Linked DNA regions of Homo sapiens: region 2 is linked to region 1. A link means that fine-mapping ties the variant in region 1 to the expression of a gene that starts in the linked region. Tissue or cell type: transverse colon. Region 1 holds a variant in brackets; the other region holds the start of a gene. All regions are shown on one strand. Distances are between the middles of the regions.

Region 1 (2,767 bases):
GGCCGCCCCGTCTGGGAGGTGAGGAGCGCCTCCGCACGGCCGCCCCGTCTGGGAGGTGAGGAGCGCCTCTGCCTGGCTGCCCATCATCTGGGAGGTGAGGAGCGCCTCTGCCCAGCCGCCCCATCTGGGAAGTGAGCACCTCTGCCCGGCCGCCCCATCTAGGAAGTGAGGAGCGCCTCTGCCCGGCCGCCCATCGTCTGGGATGTGAGGAGCACCTCTGCCCGGCCACCCTTCGTCTGGGAGGTAAGGAGCGCCTCTGCCCGGCCGCCCCATCTAGGAAGCGAGCGCCTCTGTCCGGCCGCCCTGTCTGAGAGGTGAGGAGCGTCTCTGCCCAGCCACCCTGTCTGGGAGGTGAGGAGTGCCTCTGCCCGGCCGCCCGTCGTCTGGGAAGTGAGGAGCGCCTCTGCCCAGCCGTCCTGTCTGGGATGTGAGGAGCGCCTCCGCCCGGCCGCCCCGTCTGGGAGGTGAGGGGCGCCTCTTCCCGGCCGCCCCGTCAGGGAGGTGGGAAGCGCCTCTGCCCTGCCGCCCTGTCTGGGAGGTGAAGAGCGCCTCTGCCCGGCCGCCCCGTCTGGGAGGTGAGGAGCGCCTCTGCCCGGCTGCCCCGTCTGGGAGGTGAGGAGCGCCTCTGCACGGCTGCCCCGTCTGAGAGGTGAGGAGAGCCTCTGCCTGGCCGCCCACTGTCTGGGATGTGAGGAGCTCCTCTGCCCGGCCACCCCGTCTGGGAAGTGAGGAGCACCTCTGCCCGGCCGCCCCGTCTGGGAGGTGTACCCAACAGCTCCGAAGAGACAGCGACCGTCGAGAACAGGCCATGATGACGATGGCGGTTTTGTTGAAAAGAAAAGGGGGAAATGTGGGGAAAAGAAAGAGAGATCAGATTGTTACTGTGTCTGTCTAGAAAGAAGTAGACATAGGAGACTCCATTTTGTTCTGGACTAAGAAAAATTCTTCTGCCTTGGGATGCTGTTAATCTATAACCTTACCCCCAACCCCGTGCTCTCTGAAACATGTGCTGTGTCAACTCAGGGTTAAATGGATTAAGGGCAGTGCAAGATGTGCTTTGTTAAACAGATGCTTAAAGGCTGCATGCTCATTAAGAGTCATCACCACTCCCTAATCTCAAGTACCCAGGGACACAAACACTGCGGAAGGCCACAGGGACCTCTGTCTAGGAAAACCAGAGACCTTTGTTCACGTGTTTATCTGCTGACCATCTCTCCACTATTATCCTATGACACTGCCACATACCCCCTCCAAGAAACACCCAAGAATGATCAATAAATACTAAAAAAAAAAAAAAAAAAAAAA[C/AAC]TAGAGAAGCAAGAGCAAACACATTCAAAAGCTAGCAGAAGGCAAGAAATAACTAAGATCAGAGCAGAACTGAAGGAAATAGAGACGCAAAAAACCCTTCAAAAAAATCAATGAATCCAGGAGCTGGTTTTTTGAAAAGATCAACAAAACTGATAGACCGCTAGCAAGACTAATAAAGAAGAAAAGAGAGAAGAATCAAATAGGTGCAATAAAAAATGATAAAGGGGATATCACCACTGCTCCCACAGAAATACAAACTACCATCAGAGAATACTATAAACACCTCTATGCAAATAAACTAGAAAATCTAGAAGAAATGGATAAATTCCTCGACACATACACTCTCCCAAGACTAAACCAGGAAGAAGTTGAATCTCTGAATAGACCAATAACAGGATCTGAAATTGAGGCAATAATTAATAGCTTACCAACCAAAAAAAGTCCAGACCAGATGGATTCACAGCCGAATTCTACCAGAGGCACAAGGAGGAGCTGGTACCATTCCTTCTGAAACTATTCCAATAAATAGAAAAAGAGGGAATCCTCCCTAACACATTTTATGAGGCCAGCATCATCCTGATACCAAAGCCGGGCAGAGACATAACAAAAAAAGAGAATTTTAGACCAATATCCTTGATGAACATTGATGCAAAAATCCTCAATAAAATACTGGCAAACCGAATCCAGCAACACATCAAAAAGCTTATCCACCATGATCAAGTGGGCTTCATCCCTGGGATGCAAGGCTGGTTCAACATAAGAAAATCAATAAACGTAATCCAGCATATAAACAGAACCAAAGACAAAAACCACATGATTATCTCAATAGATGCAGAAAAGGCCTTTGACAAAATTCAACAACCCTTCATGCTAAAAACTCTCAATAAATTAGGTATTGATGGGACGTATTTCAAAATAATAAGAGCTATCTATGACAAACCCACAGCCAATATCATACTGAATGGACAAAAACTGGAAGCATTCCCTTTGAAAACTGGCACAAGACAGGGATGCCCTCTCTCACCACTCCTATTCAACATAGTGTTGGAAGTTCTGGCCAGGGCAATCAGGCAGGAGAAGGGAATAAAGGGCATTCAACTAGGAAAAGAGGAAGTCAAATTGTCCCAATTTGCAGATGACATGATTGTACACATAGAAAACCCCATCGTCTCAGCCCAAAATCTCCTTAAGCTGATAAGCAACTTCAGCAAAGTCTCAGGATACAAAATCAATGTACAAAAATCACAAGCATTCTTATACACCAATAACAGACAAACAGAGAGCCAAATCATGAGTGAACTCCCATTCACAACTGCTTCAAAGAGAATAAAATACCTAGGAATCCAATTTACAAGGGATGTGAAGGACCTCTTCAAGGAGAACTACAAACCACTGCTCAATGAAATAAAAGAGGATACAAACAAATGGAAGAACATTCAATGCTCATGGGTAGGAAGACTCA
Region 2 (2,617 bases), 68 kb after region 1:
CCGAACAGGCAACATTTCCATGAAACTAAATTGCCTCTCAGTAATCAGTACTAACTAACTCAGCGCTCGTGTCTTTCAAGACCTTACCCTTTCATCTTTTTTAATCCCATAACAACCGGCAACTCTTCACATGCTGCGACTTCCACCCAGCATCATCACTTCTGGAGCCAGTAAGCTCGCGCTTCCTGGGCGGTCGGGGCGAGTTGTCAACGCTGGGAGGGCAGAGCCATGCAATCCCACCCGTGCAGTTCGTCTCAACTCCCCCGAACACAAGTCTGGCGGCACGGAGCTGCCTACTTGGGCGCGACTCCGGGCGCCTGCCCGGAATTTCCCACCAGGTTTCACCGAAACCTCCCGAGGGTGACCTCTACGCCTCAGCACGGTGCCTCGCGCGTAGTTTCCTAAGACTGGGACACGAAACCACCCCAGGTCCACAGCCCTGCCGCGCGGCGTCCGGTGTTGTGAGCTGCTTCCGACTTGTTCGGGAACTCTCTCTTCATCCTCTTCGCGACCGCGGCCCTCCGCTCCCGGCCGCGCCCGCCCGCCGCCAGGTAACCCGCTGGACTCGGGCTCCCTGCCCCGGGCGCGCGGGACCGCGCAGTTAATGTGTAACGCGCCCGTGCCCGGGGGAGGAGCCGCCGCCCGACGCCCACCAGCAGCCCAGGGGGCGGCCGGCTGACCCGGGTCGCCAAAGTCCCCCCCACACGCCGCCCCCAAGGGCCCGGAGCCCAAGTGCCCAGGCGGAGAGCGAGCTCACCGGGCCTGGGCATCCCCCCGAACCCCCGCGTGCCGCGCCCTGCACGGCGCCAGCACCTGCACCTGCCGCGGCCGCCCCTCCTGGCCGACTCGCCAGAGGCGGGCGCGCGGGCGCCGAGGGGGGCGGTGCTCTACGCTCCGGGCCTCTCCCTCCCGCGGCCGCACTCACCTGAAGAACCCACCGCGGCCGCTGCCGGCGCTCAGGGGCGCTCACAGAGCCGCAGAGAGCGCGTCCCGAAGCAGCGAGAAACGGAGGAGGACGGCGAGCCCTTTCCGCTACACTCCACGGCGGCGGGCTCACTACGCCGGCAGCCGCCGAGGGAACGCGGGACTGCGCCTGCGCCGGAAGCGGGGCCGGGGGCCGGGAGCCGGGAGCGGCCGGTCCTCACGGAGGGAGGGCGGGGTAGGGGGGTGTGGCCGGCAGGGGCGGGGCGAGCCCGGCATGGGGCCTGGGGGCGGACGCGCTTCCGCGCCCCCTGGCGCCAGGCGGGGCTCGTCGCAGGTGTCACGGCCCTGGCCCGAGGTTCCTCCGCGGGCGGTTTCCCTGGGAACCAGCGCGAGCCGGAGCTGCGCTCTGTTTCGTCGGGCCCGCGCTCTGTTTCGTCGGGCCCGCGCTCTGTTTCGCCGGGCCCGAGAGGCGGCCTCAGGTTAACTTCAAGCATGTTGGGCTCTCCAGGAGGGAGAAGAGGCACCTTTGCCGTGGGTTGAGGACTCCTAGAACCAACCTGAGACTCCGCGGCCATATACACCTTACGACGTGTGTGTGTGTGGCGGGAGATGGGAGGGGAGGAATCCTGTAGAACCCAGATCCCATCATTCCAGCAACTGCCAGAGCGTTCGAGAATGTCATGTCTGTACCTGTCTTCTCTCATCTTTTGTGCCAACTGTTTTATCAAACTTCTACCCCACTTTAGGTCTTCCAGGTAGGAAAAATACAGAAAGAGCCAAGATCCCAAAAATCAAAAAAAAATAATAATAATAGAGGTAGTCATAGTATGTGTCTCTATGTTTAGCAAAAGAGAAACGTGCATTTGTGTGATACACTTATTGAATAGGACCATCATTCTGGGTATTAATCTCATCTATTAGAGGCAGTAAAGAAAAGTAGACTATATGTATGGTTGTTGGAGTCAGAATTACTGGGCTTGAGCCTGCCACCTGCTAGCTGAGTGACCTTAGGCAAATGAATCTCTCTAGCCCCAATTTTCTCATCAGTGAATGAGTATACAGAACCTGCCTCACTGAGTCATTAAGAGTTTAAATGGCTTAATTCATGTAAACACTTTGCGTACTTCATGACACAGAGTGCCTAATAAATATTAGCTATTGTTATTATACCATTATAACTATTATCATGCATCTGTAATCCAGAAACCTAGAAAGCCAGTGTTTCTTATTTTATACCCCATCGCCAATATATCACCAAGTCTTATTCATCCTAATTTCTAAATAATTCTTAAATCTATCTTATCTGATATTCATTGCCACTAGAAATGACCTTTCTCATTAATGGATTCCTATTCTCCCTTACACCTCATAGCTGGTCATTTATTCATCAGACATTTTATTGCACTCCATCTGTGTGCCTCCTGTTAGACATAGGGACAGAGAAACCATTACAAAGTCCCCACCATCCACGGACTCAAACATATATAGGGAGACAAGTATGTCAATAGTAGCTACGTGAAATGAATAAATTAAATATACAGCAAACCACTTAGGCTCCCCAGTCTTGCCGTACTCACATACAACCCTGTATTTCCATATGCTGTTTATTTTTATGTCTTGATCTCCTACCTTTTCCTTGCCTTGCTAATTATTTGTTATTCATTATTTAGCCTAGACATCAATTCCACTGTGA

What was found. PIP is the estimated chance that this variant, and not a neighbour inherited with it, causes the effect.
Region 2: RAB3IP starts here. The variant in region 1 is fine-mapped to the expression of RAB3IP in transverse colon (CEDAR, PIP 0.95). The same link has a PIP of 0.9 or more in monocytes.

What each region holds. Positions count from the first base shown.
Region 1 is chr12:69,805,109-69,807,875 of GRCh38, reverse strand. All of the region lies in intron 8 of RAB3IP (RAB3A interacting protein), which reads right to left. Among named protein-coding and RNA genes, the nearest start is that of MYRFL, 19 kb to the left of the region's middle. The variant C/AAC (reference allele first, on the strand shown) is at 1,306.
Region 2 is chr12:69,737,340-69,739,956 of GRCh38, reverse strand. It overlaps RAB3IP (RAB3A interacting protein), which reads right to left and starts at 1,097. Exons shown (of 11, transcript NM_022456.5): 1 at 926-1,097. LOC101928002 (a long non-coding RNA gene) reads left to right here and starts at 1,407. Exons shown (of 4, transcript NR_110072.2): 1 at 1,407-1,679. RefSeq lists a silencer at 520-1,349.